Regions from separate parts of the Homo sapiens genome. Here region 2 is linked to region 1. The links come from fine-mapping of genetic effects on gene expression. Tissue or cell type: thyroid. Region 1 holds a variant in brackets; the other region holds the start of a gene. All regions are shown on one strand. Distances are from middle to middle.

The links. PIP is the estimated chance that this variant, and not a neighbour inherited with it, causes the effect.
Region 2: it holds the start of INSYN1, and the variant in region 1 is fine-mapped to the expression of INSYN1 in thyroid (GTEx, PIP above 0.99). The same link has a PIP of 0.9 or more in aorta and tibial artery.

Annotation. Positions count from the first base shown.
Region 1 is chr15:73,796,863-73,804,963 of GRCh38, reverse strand. No RefSeq gene overlaps it. Among named protein-coding and RNA genes, the nearest start is that of INSYN1-AS1, 33 kb to the right of the region's middle. RefSeq lists enhancers at 4,812-5,490, 5,491-6,170, 6,758-7,716. The variant T/C (reference allele first, on the strand shown) is at 3,993.
Region 2 is chr15:73,748,720-73,756,820 of GRCh38, reverse strand. It overlaps INSYN1 (inhibitory synaptic factor 1), which reads left to right and starts at 3,470. Exons shown (of 3, transcript NM_001039614.3): 1 at 3,470-4,711; 2 at 5,124-5,846. The coding sequence starts at 5,691. RefSeq lists an enhancer at 4,580-5,353.

The DNA of each region.
Region 1 (8,101 bases):
CTTCCTTCAGCAGATGAGCTAAGGGAACACGGCAGGCCTATTGGAGGAGGGAACCGCCAGAAAATAAACCCTGAGCCTGGCTATTATTACTTTTTGTTGTTGTTAATTTATCCCCTGCTTGGCTTCTGATAGGCTCCAAGATGACTAAATAAACCCAGGAATCAACTCCCCACCCTCCCAAACTCAATCTTCAGCAAGGGAGAGCTCAGTCTGCGGCATAAATTAGCGGAAGCCAGAGTGTAAAAATATGATTCTGTGAACAAACAAAAGCCTCCAGTCATGAGACCAGCAGTGGCTGAGCTGTTCCCACTGCCGTCAGCTCTGTTTCCAAGCAATTAGAAGGCAGAGGGAGAAGAGCCCGGCAGACCCCCCCAGTGGAGCTGGGAGGGAGGGAGGGGGACAGGGGGCAGCCCTCCAGCGCCCTGCTGCAGCCCTCCAGATGCTTGGAGCTGGTGCTGGGGCTTGCCTGGTAGGCAGGAGAACTGTCTGTCTGGCCCCAGGCTGCTGGGGGACCCCCTCGCCAACCCCCAAGCATGATTTTTGCCTCTTGGCCTCAGTCTCTTCATCTTTAAAATGAGCATAATAACTCCTGGTGGCTTTTCCACCAATCTGTCATGAGGATTAGACAAAATAAAAGGTTGTAAAAGGTTTGAGGAAAAGCAGAGGGAGGTGAGGGGTGATTGCTGGAACTTGCGGCAAGTCGAGGGGCTGCCAGGAGAAGGGGTCCCACTGGAGAACTAGCTTCCTGCTTGAAATCTCCACCCACACCCATTCTGCAGATGTCAAAAGTGAGGCTCAAGAAGGTTGGGCTTGGCCTCAGTTGACTCTCCAGAAATGGAGCCTGCCAGACACAGAAGTCAGTGGCTTCCCCACTCCACCTTGGAGTCAGAGTGCCTTTGGCAAACTGGAACCAGATAACTGAGGCTAGTGTGAGCTGTGGGCTGAGCTGGTGGGCGAGTGTGTTGGTGACCTATGCCTGGCTCATCTGGGCTGAGCTTGGTGACAGACATGGGGCAGTCCACAGCCTGGCACCCGCCAGCATGGTTTAGACTAAAACTACCCTCCATCAGTTCTCTGGCCTCTTATAGGAAGAAATTCTGATCCCAAGAGGGCCCATGTGAGCAAGCCCCTTGATAGGCATTGAGGACCCTGGAATGGCAAGAGACAGTCCCTGTACCCAAAGGGTTTGCAGTCTGCTGCTGGGGACAGGCTCTTGGGCCACCTTCAGGATCGGCCTTGGATGGACAGTGCTTCCCCTGCCTGCAATGCCAAACTGGGGATTCCAGACATGAAAGGGCACAGAGCCAACATTTACTGTGCCCTGATGCGGAGCCTGGTGCTCATCCTGCACCATCCATCCGGTCCGCTCCATGGAGCCGCCTCTCTGTGCCAGGTATGTGGCAGGGAGCAATGCACAGGCACCCCTGCCCTCCTGGAGTGAGGGCGGACAGGCACTGAACAAAACGAAGCATAAGATGTGAGATGGTGCTAAGTGATGTGGAGAAAAAGAAAGCAGGAAAGAAGGTATGGTTTGAAACCCGACCATAATCCTCAAAATACCCCTGGTTTAATCCTCAAAATGCCCCTCATCTGCCAGTTGAGGAAAGTGAGACTCAGAAAGGTTAAGTAGGTTGGTTGCCCAAGGTCATACAGTAGGAACAGAGGCACTAAGATTTGAACCTGAATGTTCTGATAGGGGAGCTCTTTATTCAAATACCAGGCAACCATCACTCCAAATGACCCTGGAGCAGACAAAAATCAATCAGAAATCAATCTAGAGGGTCCAGCAAAGAAGCTAACAGATCAAGGAGTTCCATTTACCCTGGGCAATCAGGAAGGCTTCATGAAGGAGGCAGCAGCACTTGAGGCTGGTCGGGGAGAGCTCCCTGCCACCTCCATCAGAGGCTTCACTGGGCCTGGTGAAGGGTGCTGGTGCAGGCTGGGGCTGCCTCCTATTTCCCTGCCGGCCACCTTCTCTCAGCCAACCCCTTGCCTTCCAGAGCCAACTTGGCTTAGAAATCAAGCAGGGACAAGAAGTTCCCTTCCTGTGCCAGGCCTGCAGCCAGTCCGAGGCTTTGGCCTCTCCTGCTTGCCTACAGATGGCAGAGAAACCTCCAGCCCCGAGTTCTGGGCATCAGCCTGTTGGCCCAGCAGAAAGGCTGCTGGGGGAAGTTTGGCTGAAAAAATGTAGAGTGAAAGAATTGATTTTTTTTAATCTACACAGTCGTAAACATAAACTGGAAGATACATCTCTTCCTTTATGGGAGACAATCAAAAACACAATACGAGTTTATGGAGGGAATGTGTCTTTCTTATACAGGATATTTTCCCCAAAACACTTGGCAGCCTGAAACCACTCCATTCCAGAGACAAGTAATCAAGTGGAAAGAGAAGGGAGGGAGCGGGATCCCAGGGCTTTATGAGCCAGAGGCCCTACTCTGTTAATGACAAAAAAAAAAGGGTGGCTTTGCTCCTCATTTCCCCTGCCCTGGAGACCCAGGGCCTTGTGAGATGAGCCCAGAGACCCACATTCAACCTTTGGCAGCCAAGAGCCAAGGCTGGGCCATAATCCCATGCTGGATTTTCAGTGCAGCACCTCTGGGCATGTCGGGGCTAGGCCCTGTGCTGGAGCTGAGCACACGGATGGATAGCACTTGATTCTTGCCCTTGAGGAACCAGCCAGCCAGCAGGAAGGGGAGAGATTTACGGAACTGATGCTGACGGTAGGCAAAATGAATCAGGAGTGTGTAGACGTCTTTTTCTTCCCCTTCCCCTAAATCTTTACTTCTCTCTTGACCTGACTCCGGGACTCCCAGCCAGACACCCACCAGTAACTGCTCGATAAAACTTGCCCACTGGGTCATTGAAGCAGGGCCTTCCATGGTGGCAGCAGGGCCTAAGATGTGGTTGCCCGGAACCAAATGTTCCTAACTCTCTGCCGCAGAAGACACTTCCAGCCCAGCCACACTCTGGGATAGGCAGTTCTGTGCAAGTTCAGCATCCGCTTCAAGCACTTGAGGCCAGGGATTCCACTTTCTTCCTGGAGTCCAGAGGAGCCATCACCTCCCTGGAGAAGCCCCCCAACCAATGGGTGATGGTGGCCAATATATAACCCGCCCCCCTGACTTCCGTCCTTTAGGCCTTCAGTCCTGGGAGATACCAGGGGAGTAGAGCCCTGCCCTCCACAGCGGCTTCTCTGTTAATGCTCCTTTATATCAGCTTTTCCTCCTTCCCTGTCTCACTACCCAGCTACCCTCTTCCTGAAATCTCCCAATACACTTCCTGTACCCAAGTCCTGGCCCCAGGCTTTAGGTTCAAGGGAGCCCAATCTAAGAAAGCACCCCACCACTTCCATACTCCCCAACAGACAAGATCTCTGGCCTGCCTAGCACCTCTGGAATGTGCTCAAGATAGGTATATTCTCATGGCAAAGGAGAGAGCCCAGCCTCAGTTGGAGGAGACGGGGAGAGGACAGTGGGCCTTCTCCTCCTGGAAGCCATCCCTCCCTCCTTTCCAACTTCAGCACAGATGCCAGGCTCTGGAGCCCAGCGAATGAGGCAGGGCCCAGCTCCACAACCACCTATGTGACCTGGGCAAGTCACTTAATCTCTCAGAGCCCCATTTTTCTCATCTGTAAAACGAAGATGATGACACCCATGCTGAATAGCTGTGAGAACTGGATGAGGTCATGTCTGGGAGTGGATGCACAATCCAAACAGAAACGCATGAACCACTATTTGTATGAATTTCATCTCCCTAGACAGACTGCCAATTCCTTGAAGGCGAGGCCCTTCTTTATTTTTTCCTGTCTCCCCCACAGCTCCAGCATGGAGCTAGGTACCTAGCTCTCATTGAAAACTCCCTGGATGGAGCGGGGATTGGCCCTGAGCCCTGGGCTCCACTCAGACTGGCAAAGCTCTGCATGGCCAGATGATGAGGGCCATTCTGAGCGTGCCTTGGACTGCACAGAGCTGGCCTGGCCCTATGCCTGG[T/C]GCCAGTGAGAGGACAAGTTGCCCTCCCAAGTTGGGAACGGACGGTGGGCAGGCCAGAACCTGGAAGAAGTGGTGCTAGCTGACGCAGCCATCCTACCGTCCTGAAAAATCCAGGATGACAGTGTTGGGGGCTTTCATCAGCCCCAAGCTCTTTTTGAGTAAAGGGAAAAAATTGGCTTCCACTCCAAGCCCAACTGCATCCGACATCTGGCAGCTCAAAGTGAAGTGACTCATGCAATCCTTAGATACAAGGAAGTGGGGGGAGGAAAGAGAGAAGAAGAAGAAAATCGCACAGAAGGAGGGAGGGCAGGCAGGCGATGTGGCCCCCAGACAAAAGAATTAGCCAGAGTGGAGAGCAAAGGCTGGTCACATGCCCAGGTGACAGTGAGTTGCCCAGCCTTTGTTTTGTTCACCCAGCTTTGGGTCTACTGATAGGACCTCTGGCACCAGGCACTGCTGACCTAAAGAGACACAGGTTTTGACCAGCCCTGGTAGGATAAGAAGTGACCCTGTGGATAGTGAGCAGCCTGTCACCGGAGGCATGCAAGAGAAGCTGGATAAACTCAGGTAGGAGTGTGGTAAAGACTCTGGCTAAATAAGTCTTGGAGAGATTGAAAGATAGCGATGTCCCGTAAGACCCTGAGGGGAAGGGTGGATAAAGTCATGGAGATTACAGAGCCCACAAGCCTGGTTGTCTGACTGCAGGGACAGAAGCCATTTCTCTGTCCATGCAGGTGACAAGGGCAGGCAGTGTGAGCTGGAGGGGTCTTCTTCAGCTTCCCCTGGGACCCAGGCCTTGGTGACCTTCTCTTCTCCAGTATGATTGCTCTGGGAGTTGCAGAGAGGACTGGAGGGCAGCCTGCAGTGGGGTCACCTCTTCAGGGAGCTCAGAGCATGGCAGGGGAGGAGCAGCAGGCCTGTGGACGGATGAGGGAAGTTTCACAGCACCCCATTTGTCTCGTCAGAGCCAGTCTCAGGTTCAGGGTCACACAAGGGAGTGAGAGGTCAGCAGGTAGATGCGATCACGGGAGAATTCTTGGAGGAACCAGAGCCCTTGGAGCTAGTTCTAAGGGTTGGGCCCAACTATACATAAAAGTCCAGTCAATATCAAGTGAGTGTTAGAGAGACAGAAAGATAGAAAGTGGGGGCAGTCATTCCCGCTGGGAAGAACTGCTGAGCAAAGGTGCGACCATGGGGAAGAGACTGGCCTGGGCTGGGAAGGGAGGTTGAAGCAGGAAGTCAGGGGCTGTGAGGTCAGCCTCTGTCTTTTCTAGGTCTTAGTTTATGCCTCTCTCAGGAATGTCTTTTCAGGGTTCCTCCCGTGTGGTTGGAAACCTCAGACAATGTTTCCTGCCTGCTCTTCCCACCCAGCGGGAGGGCCACACACCCAAGCAGGAGGTGGGGAGGGTGCAGGCAAGTCCCTCCTCCCTGGATCTCCCACTTCCCACCTGCACAAGACAGGTTGAGCTGTGCAGTCTGCCAAGGCCCTTCTAGCCCAACTGTATCCAGATTCTTAGGTCTGTGGCCAAAGTCAGACCAAAGCAGAGGTCACCTCTTGGCCCACTTAGTGCAACATAACTGCCAGCGCCTTTGCCTCAGCCAGATGGGTCCAATTCCACAGTGGCCTGCGGGTCCTCAGCACCCCTCCCCCACCAAGTCAGGCATTACCTCCTCAGCCTGCTCTCCAGGAAGGCCTTCAGAGTCATCCTCACCTCCAGACCTTAGCTCACTCTGCAGCCCTTCCTGCTAATGTCCTTGCTCCTCCTCTCTGAGCAGAGGGCACAGCCTCCAAGGGCCAGAGGAAGATCCACACGGTGTTCTTTCATTCAGCCTTCCTGACAGGCTGGGAGCGGGTGCTGGGCGGGTCCTGCTCAGGATCTGCCTTGAGGAGCCCCCATCCCCGCTCCTTTAGGGCCCTTCGCTGAGTGTTCCGTTTACAGGGGCCTCGTCCCCTCTGAGCACCAACAGGCTGATGTACTTTTGTCCTCACCTGCTGTTAATCGTGCTCTGCTGTTAGGTTCGCTTCGTAGGAGGGCACCGTGTGGACATTAGGAGCATGGGCTCAGCAGTCAGACCCCTGGGTTTGTGTGTGAGGTCCCACTCCCCAGCTGAATGATCATGGGCAAGTGAGAGCCCTCCCTACACCTCAGTGTCCTCATCTGTAAAATGGGGATAGTGATAGTGCCTATTCCGGGGTTACTATAAGCAGTGCATGTGACTATGTATGTAAAGTGCCAAGTGTGGCACCTGCCATATCACAAGGGTTCCATGTCACTTGGGGTCAGTGTTCACATGTTACAGTTGTTAGGACCCAGGCAGGTCCCTCTCCATGTGTCTCCAGGCTCCCCAAGGGCAGGGCTTTGGAGGGGTGTGGAGGTGCAGAATGCATGGTTGAGGGGGTTGTATCATAAATGTACTTTGGGTTATTTCACTGATCCCTTGAGTCCCATTGACTCCCAGGGGGTCTGAAGGAAGGGGTGGCAGGACAGATGAATTCTGAAGTATGGAAAGCAGAGTTTGCAGCTTCCCAGAGGGGCTCCTGGGGAGCTGGGGTGCCTCATAAGCCCTGGGATGGGGGCCCCTGCTAAGGATGACGCGGCTTTGCCCACACTGGGCCTCATTCAGTGCCGGGAAGACTGAGGGAATGACATCGAGGGACAGGCAGGTGCAGGCTCCCTGATCAGGCTCCCCAGGCCCTCAGTCCCTGAGCCCATTAGTCAACAAATGTTTCTAAGCACACTCCAGGCTGCTCCCTTGGACCAGGTTGGAACCCCAGGACCCTGTGTCTACCTTACTGCAGACCTGGACTTGTGATAGAGAAGGTAGGGGGTCCACCAGGGAGGGGGCCAAGCCAGGAGGGGGCATGAACCACACCCCTGGAGAAAAGGTGGCTTCCTGGGACTGGTATTCTGGCTTTGGCCTGTTTCCTTCCTAAGTTCCCCCAGGGCCCAGAATGGGGCCTGCAGTTGGCAGCTGCTCAGTAAACCTCTGTTGAGCGAATGAATGAATGAGTGAATGAATGAATGCATTAATGAATGAGTGAGTGAAAGCCAGATTTGTGTCACTCAGCAGAGCACACCCATGGGATGCTCCCCCAGCTCCCCAGGAAAGCCCATCCTCTCCAGATCCTCCCACTCCCCCAGCCCCTGACCCGGCCCAGACCCTCTCCCTGCCCCATAAGCAGCCACGGTCTCTGCCCCACTCTGACCCTAGCCCCCGCTCCTGCCAGTCCTGCAGCCCCGAGTAGACTTCCAGGCAAGCCAAAGAGGGACGTCAACGTGCGGGCTTTCTGTTGTCACTAGCTGGCAGGTCTCAGGTAATAGCGCCTGTGGAGAACTAGCTACCTTAGCCAAAGAATTTGCAAATGCATGCCAGGAGTGGGTGGGTGAGCAGAGGATGGCAGAACGCCTCGGACTGGCTCCTTCCATGGGCGCCCCACTCCCACAGCAGGGTGGCAGCTGGGCGAGATTTCTCCCACACTCTGAGAGCTCCTCCCTCAGGACAGGCTGCAGAGGCAGATGATGCTGTCCATCTCTGGCCCCTTCCTGTCCTGCAACTCCCAACCACACTACTGGCTACCCCCGAGTGGCACTACCAGGCTACTCCTGAACTAGAGGAAGGGCAAAGGGAGTAACTAAGGCTCAGACCAGGGACATGTCTTGCTCCAGATCAGATAACAACCTGCCTGTGGAGCTGGTAGACAGACAGATCTACCTGTCTGTCTCCCTACCAAGGGGGGAGGTAGAGATTGCTGGGCAGAACGCACAGGCGACTAGCCCAGGAGAGAAGCTGCACCCACAGACCCTGTGGTCGCACAGACCCAATGTTGGCACCTCAGGTCAAGGAACAGCTGTGGGAGGAGGGGAGGGGCAGCTCCCCAGCCATCTAAGAGTGTCTCAATGGCAGCTCCCCGCTTCCCAGAACTAAGGGTGTCAAAGGGGCTAATTGTTTTCCAGCTAGGGTGACCAACTCATCTGTTTGTCTGGAACTTGGCTGGTTTTTGCATGTCCAAACGGGCTCCAGTAGAGGCCCTGATGGGCCACTTGGAGCTTGCCGCATTGTCCTGTCAGGACCCTCAGTGGCCATAATGAGACAGTGACAAATGGGGC
Region 2 (8,101 bases), 48 kb after region 1:
ACAGAGCACCTACCAGGTGCCAGGCACTGGGCCAAGTACTTCCATGTGCATTATCTTATTCCATGTTCACAGTGACCCTGGAAAGTAGTCATTATTGTCCTGATTTTTCTGAATCAGAGAGACAGTGAAATACATCCCCCCCCCTTTTTTTTTTTACAAGAGACCCAATTCAAGAAAGAATTAAAATGTTTATAGGCTGCTATCCTTGCTCAGAGAGGTTAAGTGACTTGCTCAAGGTCACACAGCTAGCACATTAAATGAATGCCCTGGGAAGCATTTGGTTAAGGGCAAAAAAAAGTGCTTCCATTTCTCTCCGTAGACTAAAGCACTAGGGAAGGCTGCCTAGAGGGTGGAGGTTGGCGGTGAATAAGCAGAGATCTAAAGGATGGGACATCTAGGCAGGTGGCCAGGGAGGTTGGGTGGAAGAAAGGATGGATCAATCCCCAAACACTAAGGAAGGCAGGTCTGAGCACCACCCAGATACTATCTATTCCCTCTCGCCTGTGGCAGCTCTTTGGAGATTTACAATCAGAGACCCCTTCTCCTGAGTCTCCTCTTCTCTAGCCTGCTCTGACCAGCCCTACCATCCTTCATAGAACATATACACCAGTCACCTCCCCTATTCTACTTGGCTGTCCTCCTATGGACACACCCAATGAATTGAGGTGCTAGGCACAGTTTGATCCACACAAATGACAGAAGAAATGTTACCTCCCTTTTTCAAAACACTGTGCTTCTATTAATGAGACCCGAGATCAATTATGTATTAAGCAGTCACAGTCCACCCTGTCCAATCAAGCTCACTGTCTCCTAACCTTGCCAGTTCAAACACATCTCCCTCATCCTGGATGAGGGCGGATGATTCCCTGGACCTAAGACTAGAAACTCTTTTTTTTCAGGCTTAGCCCATTTTTGGTCTCGGCTGTTCCTTAGCATCACTGCTTCCACAAAAGTGATTGGTGAGACTGTGTGATTCCACTTATATGAGGCACCTAGAGTAGTCAGAGTCACAGAGACAGAAGATAGAATGGTGGTTGCCAGGGGCTGGCGGGGGGAGGGGTGATGGAAAGTCACTGTGAGATGGAATAAGATAATGCATGTGGAAGTACTTGGCCCAGTGCCTGGTGCCTGGTAGGTGCTCCACAGAGAGTGGCTGCTATCAGCTCTTAATCACAGAGTTTCAGTTTGGGATGATGAAAAGGTTCTGGAGATGGGTGGTGGTGATGGTTACACAACAATGTGAATGTACTTAGTGCCACTGAACTATGCACTTACGAATGGTTAAGATGGTAGATTTTAGGCCGGGCGCAGTGGCTCACGCCTGTAATCCCAGCACTTTGGGAGGCCGAGACAGGCGGGTCACGAGGTCAGGAGATGGAGACCATCCTGGCTAACACGGTGAAACCCCGTCTCTACTAAAAACACAAAAAAATTAGCCGGGCGTGGTGGTGGGTGCCTGTAGTCCCAGCTACTTGGGAGGCTGAGGCAGGAAAATGGCATGAACCTGGGAGGCGGAGCTTGCAGTAAGCCGAGATCGCGCCACTGCACTCCAGCCTGGGTGACAGAGCGAGACTCTGTCTCAAAAAAAAAAAAAAAAAAAAGGTAGATTTTATGTTACGCATATTTTGCTACAATTTTTTAAGTGATTGGTGGGCCCTCTGGATCCACCCCATCAGAAGAACATCTCCCCAACCCAGGGCAGCTGGATTCCCACCCTCACAGCTTCTGGTTCTCCAAAGGCAACCCCTGAGCTGAATCTCAAGGAAGTAGGAGTCAGTTCCCCCAGCAGCCCCCTGTGAATACATCTCTGAGATAACTCAGAGACCAAGGAACATCATTAGCACCCACAGTACCATCACTGTCTCTGGAATTCAAGTCCCCCATGGGCCAGCCTAAAACCACCACCTAGCCCCACCTCCCTTGACCCCTCCTCTGCCTCTAGTTCAAGATCTCTGCTTCCCCGCCACTTAAACTTTTGAAAATGTCATCTGTACTCACTCCTGTTCCTCACTGTTGGGCACATAGTCCTCGATGCCCAACAGTTTGGTTCCTGTCACCTTCTACCCTCCAAAACCAATTGCCCCTGCCATGTCACCCGTGGCCTCCTGAGTACCAAGACAAATAGACACTTTCTGTTCCTTCTCTCACAGCCACTCCCTGCCGCGTTCGACACTGATGAGCACTTGCTTCTCCCAAACTCCTCCTACTGGGCCTACATAACTCTCCACTTTCTGGTTCTTCTCCTATCTTTCTAATCACTCCTCCCTCTCACTCATGGACTCTTTTCTGAGGTTCCAGCCCAGAACTACTGCTTTTGTTACTTCTACGCAGCGTCCCTGTTCATCTCACCCCTCTAATGATGGTTCAAAAAAAAAAACAAACAAAATGTTACTCTCAAGCCCCAGCCTCTCTCATGAGCATAGATTCATAGACTCCACTGTCTTCTGGCCAACGGTGAAATAGCCTCCTAACTGCTCTATCTCGGTGGCACCTCCTCACACCCACTCACAATGCCCCAGAGGGGTTTCCTGAGAAGGCAAGCAGGCCCAGGTTCCTCCCAATATCAAAGCTCCCTCCGCCCCGGGATAAAATCTAAGCTCCTAACCATGGTCTCTGAGTCTCTCTGTGGTCTGCAGTCAAAATGGTATCTAAAAGGCCCCAGTTAACTTAAACTCCCCTCCTCCCATTTCTGCTTCTGAGCCTGTGCTCCCACCCTCCTCCCTGCCTGGAATGCTGATCCCCAACCCCCCACACTGACAGTCACTCCTACTCCTCCTTTGAGATTCAGCTCAGGGGTGGCCTACCTGGCAGAACCCGCCAGGCCCTGGCCTGAACTGCACCACCCAACCCACACTTCCCTACTCCCCTGTTAACATTGCTTCCAGAATTTGCCTCTGTTGTGACTCAGGAGTGTCCCCGAGCCGTGAGCTTCCTGAAATGCTCTGGTGGCCCCGGAGCCTAGCATGGAACCTGATGCACAGAAGGCCTCTAATACATGAGTCAATTGTTGAATAGCTGAAGGAAACGATGGGTGTCCAAGACAGCCTCCAACCCCCAGCCCTGCCGACCCAGAGCTTGGCACACAGTAGGTTCTCAGGAAAGGTTGGCAGTATTCTATTTTCTGAATGAATGTGATTTCAGGCAAGGTCAGGGGCTGGGTTATGTGGGTGGTAGAAGGGAGGGTCTGGATGCGGGAAACGTGGCCAAAAGGGAAGCTTGGGGGCAGTGCAGTAGGGGAAGGGGGCAATGGGGGTGTCTGGAGAGGTGGGAAAGGAACGAAGTCCCCAGAACGCTGTCCCTCCGCGCCCCAGGTCAGCCGGCGTGGGGTCCGGTCAGTCCGCCTCCAGCCCCGCCAGCGAGACCCTTCCCCCTCGCCCGGGTGGCGAGACCCCCCTGGCTCGCACGCTTGGCCCTCGGGGTTGGGAGGCGTGTGTGTCGCTTTAAAAGCTCCCTCCCGGCGCGGCGGGCCGGCCCCTTCCCTGACAGCGCCGAGGCAAGCGGAGCCAAGCGAGCCGGGCGGCCTTTAAGGGAGCCAGCGCCCGCCCGGGCGGCCAGTCCGGCGGGGGGCGGCGGGGCGGGCCGGGGGCGGCCGGGGCGCGGGCGGCGCGGCGCCGCGGCGCTTGGGGAGCGGGCCCAGGCCCCGGGAGCCCGGCGGGGCAGGGCAGGGCGAGGCGGTGAAGGGAGGCCCAGCCCCGACCCGGCGCCTGTTTGCCCCACCGGCGGCGACCCGGCGCCCGGGGGCTGCTGAGGCGGGGAGCCGAGAGCGAACGGACGGGAGGTAGCGGAGCCGAGCGGAGGCTGCGAGCCTAGTGCGCCCCGGCCCGGCCCGGCCCGCCGCTCGCCCCCTCCCCTCCCTTCCCCTCGCCGCGCCTCCTCCCCTCGCCTCTTCTCGCCTCCTCTCCTCTCCTCCGCCCGGCGCTGCTCCCGCCTGCGCCCGGGCCGCCGAACCCAGCCCGGCCGGGGCCCCCGGCTTCGCGCGCTCTCGGCTGGGCCCGGCGGGGACCGGGTCCCCGCGGCTGACATCGCCCCTCCTCGGGGACCCGGTGGATTCCGGACCTTTCGGAACGTGAACTGAGCCGTGGGAGCGGTCTCGCCCAGGGCCGACCGCGGGGCTGGGCTGAGCAGACCCTCGCGGCCGCTCCGGACGCCGCGGGTGCCGGGGCACGGACGTTCTGGGTCCGGGCTGAGCGCGTCCCGGGCGCCCGGCGGTGCCAGCTCACTCCGGGCGGGGTAGGGCAGGGCAGACCCCAGCGGAACACGGACCCGGCCGATCTGGACTGGACAGAGCGAATCCCGGACGGTGCAGAGCCCGGGGAATGCCGGGCGTGGGCTGAGGGGATCCCGGCGCCCTCCCAGCCCTCCGACTTTGGCTCACGCGCTGGGACCTGCCCGGCGTCTCCTCGGCCTCCCCGCGCCCCGGTCACCTGTGGCCTCGGAGCCCCAAATCTGCCGGACCCTCGCTCATTCCCGACCCCGAGCCTGGAGAGGCTTGAGAAAGATTTTTCCTGCCCCCTTCCCTGGAGCGCGGAGGCCCCGCCCCCTCCCACCGCCCAGATGTCTCCGGTCACGGCTCGGAGGACCTCCCTGAGGCCCGGGGCCGAAGGGTCCAGAGAGAGAAGCCCGCCCTAGGGAGCCTTGGGGGCCCCCCAACTCCGTCTTGGGGCTTGGCCCCCGACGCTGCTTGGAGGGAAGGCCGGTGCCCCCACCCTCGGTGAGTCCAGGAGTGGGGGTTCTGAGGGAAGGCGGGGCTGGGGGAGGGAGGGTCCGCTGGGAACGAGGGCACCCTGGGGGCGCTAGGAGGGAGGATGGGTGACTGGAGAGGCCCTCTGGTGAACCAGCCTGGGCAGGCCTGGCTGGGGGGAAGGTGGGGGGGGAGGGCGGGAGCTACGGCCAGGGTGCCCCGTAGCAGGCTGAGGACTTCTGCTTCTAAAGCAGGGGCTCCCTCCCTTTCCCTCTAGAGGAGGGGCTGTGCTGTAAACCGTCTGCCTCCACCACCCCTCCCCACAAAGAAAAAAAAATCCCCAGCGAGGAAGGGTGCAGGCTGGCGAGAGGAGGGAGGCAGCGGCATTGCCGGCTGGTGCTGCAGCCTGGGAGGGCTGACGCCAGGCTCGCTCTCTCCGCAGGGGGCTGCCCTCTTCCAATCCAGCTCCCTCCCCAGAGCTGCCCATATCCGGAGCCCCTTCCACATCTGGAAGACCCTGGCCACCATCCCTCTGCAGGTGTCAGTTGCATCCAGAGACCTCTGCCTTTGCAACTGCCTAGGAGTTGTGAGGGGATCCCTGCTGCCTTCCCCCATCCCAAGGGCATCTCTTACCCTTAGTCCCTGCAGAGTCATCCCCCTGCCTCTGTGTTCAAGCTCAGGCAGAGATCAGCTCTGCACACCCACAGGCACTTCAAGACCTGGAGGCCACTCCTGGGACCCAAGGTCCCTCCCCCTCCTCTCCTGTGTCCTCACCTTGACCCCCTCTGCTAGACTCTGTCTCCCTCTGGGTGTCCCACTCTCCACCCAGAGGCAGAGGAGGCTGGGTGGCAGGGGGCAGGGGCTGGTTGAGGGCCGCCCAGGGCCAGGGTGGGCTGGGGGGCCGTTAAAATGTGGAGCTCTGCCCAGCCGAGGGGGGCTCCGTGGAGGCAGACGCAGTGTGTGCCCAGCTGGGGGGAGTATGGGCAGGCCTGCGGCCACGTGGTAAACGATGAACATTCGGGGCGCCCCGGACCTCGGGCAGCCCAGTGACGACCCCAGCAGTGGTGGTGAGCGGGAGCGGATTCGACAGCGCATGAAGATGGTCATCGGGCAGCTTGAGGGCATCCTTCGCGAGCTCAAGGAGGTGGCCAAGGAGCTGAGGGAGGTAAGTGAGGGGTGAGGAGGGACCAGACAGACCCTAAGCCAACCTTCTTGGGTTTGGCACAAAAACGTACTCATAAATACGTTGGAGTGTGCAAAGCTGCGTGCACATGTGTCACTCTACTGGGGACCTTCTTTCTCCTTGCTCTCCTTTCCGCAAATCTGCTTTGCTAAAAATCTCATCAGACCCCAAGGCTGGAGGGGCCTCGGTGTTGTAGAGGTTACTTGAGCAGCATGTCAGTGGGCCTGGAGCTCTGGGTTAGCACAAAGGGCTGCCAAGATGGCCAGTAAGGACTGAATCCCGCCACAGCTTCTTAGTGGAAGACAACCTTCTGGGACCCAAGCTGACCCTTGAACCCACCATCTGTCTCCCAGACTCTGATCTGGTCACAAGGGACCCTGGGAGAGTGCAGATAGTTGTGCTGAGGTGGTTTCCACTGCTTGAGGCCCAGCTCAAAGCATATCCCTAGAAATCACACAGATACTGAGAACCCTTGATCTTGGAAAAATTTAAGCCAGCTATGTCCTCTTTGTCCGGGGGTAAGAATGGGTCTGGGGGTGCTGTAGTGGATAACAGAGTTCCTTGCATATTTTGGCAGGGGCAGGAGTCTTCCCTAAGGGGATGCGAGTCTCCATCCCACTGTTCTAAATATTTTTGCCAAGGCTGAAAAGCCACTGAGAAATGCTGGGATGTGTGTGTCCCTCTCTGTCTTTCTAAGTGGAGCCTGGTTTAATTACTGCTTCTCACATCGCTAGGGTAATGAGGTACACATGTCTTCAGCCCTGCCCCCTGTGCTGCGTTCGAGTCCAAAATGCATGACCAGCGTTCTGAGCTGCTAGCCTGAATTTGCCCACTGGGTGCCATTATACCAGCCAGGTGGGCTTTAGGCAAATTTCAACTCCTTGTAATCAGGGCCCCTGCAGAGATGGCAGGGAGAGTGATTGAATTGGAGTTATGGGCTCAAGCTCTCCCTGGCCAGCTGTGCAGGGAGGATAGGGGCTCTAGGAAGGCTGAAGAGGTGGGGTGATGGTAGGTACCAACTCCAGGCTGGCAAAGTGGCATTGCAGCCTGGCCTGAGAGCCAAGGAGGAGGGGTTGTTTGAAGGGCACTGTGTTCAGAATGGGATAGGGAGTGGGCATAGAGATGCCAGGACAAGAGCTGTCCAGGGTCAGCCTCGTGGAGCCTACCAGGAAATCCCATCTCAGAAGATGAGAATGACTGTTGCTTCAGGCAGACTGAGGTGGTGGTGCTTCTGCCCATGGACTGGGCCGGCCATAGTCTGGGTTGCACATCTTTGGACAGTACAATTTGGAGATCAAGCGCCAGATGCCCCTGCGGAACGCTTCCTCCTCCAAACTCTTGGGTCCAAGGCACTACAGTTTTCCCCCTGCCTCCATCTTATTTTAGATCAGGGCCATGGGAACTGTCCAAAGTCTCAGTCTTGGCCAGGGACATGAGACCTATGCCCCGGCAGGTACCCACAAAGAGCCAGGATTGACTCTAGGCCTGGGAGTCAACTCTGATACAACTCCCAGCCTTTTCCCAGTTGGGCATCTTCCAGGCATCTGTGTTCCCTCTCCCCACCGCATAGCCACCCAGAGCTTCAAAGGATCTCATAGGTAATCCAGACCAGCTCTGTCCATTTACTATTGAAGAAACTGAGGCCCAGAGAGCAATAGGGGCTTGTCCAAGGTTACACAGCCTACCAGTGGCAGAAGTATGCCTAGAACTCGGGTTCCTGATGCCTTTTCTGGGGTTTCAGCAGGTGAGCTACTGGGCGATCTCTTTGCATTTTGACAGGGGCCTTCCAGAGATGATCTCTTATGCTCATCTGTGATGCAATAGCTCTAGGATTTATTTGCAGATCGTTTAGATGCCCTCTCCTTCCCTTTCACACTCACCCACTCCCATGTCTCCAATAGCAGAGCTCCAGGTTCACAGGCTATGCAGCCCAGAGGCCTCAGCCAGGACAGAGAAAATGAGTCCCCTCCCCCCACACACCCTGTAGGCCATGTGCCTCCACCCAAGACTTTGGCAGGTTGCTACGGCAACCAGAGCCTACCCCGTATGCCACTGCCTGCCCGCTGCCAATGGCACCCAGCTGGGGGAGTGGGTAAGCCTCAGAACTCTCTCGTCCCCCAGGCAGGGTCTAGACACAGGGTGACAGGCAGAGGGGAGTGTGGAGGAAGGCAGGTGAAGCTCTGGGAGGCCCAAGCAAAAGAAGAGATGCCATCACCGTCTTCCTGTGAGATGGGATT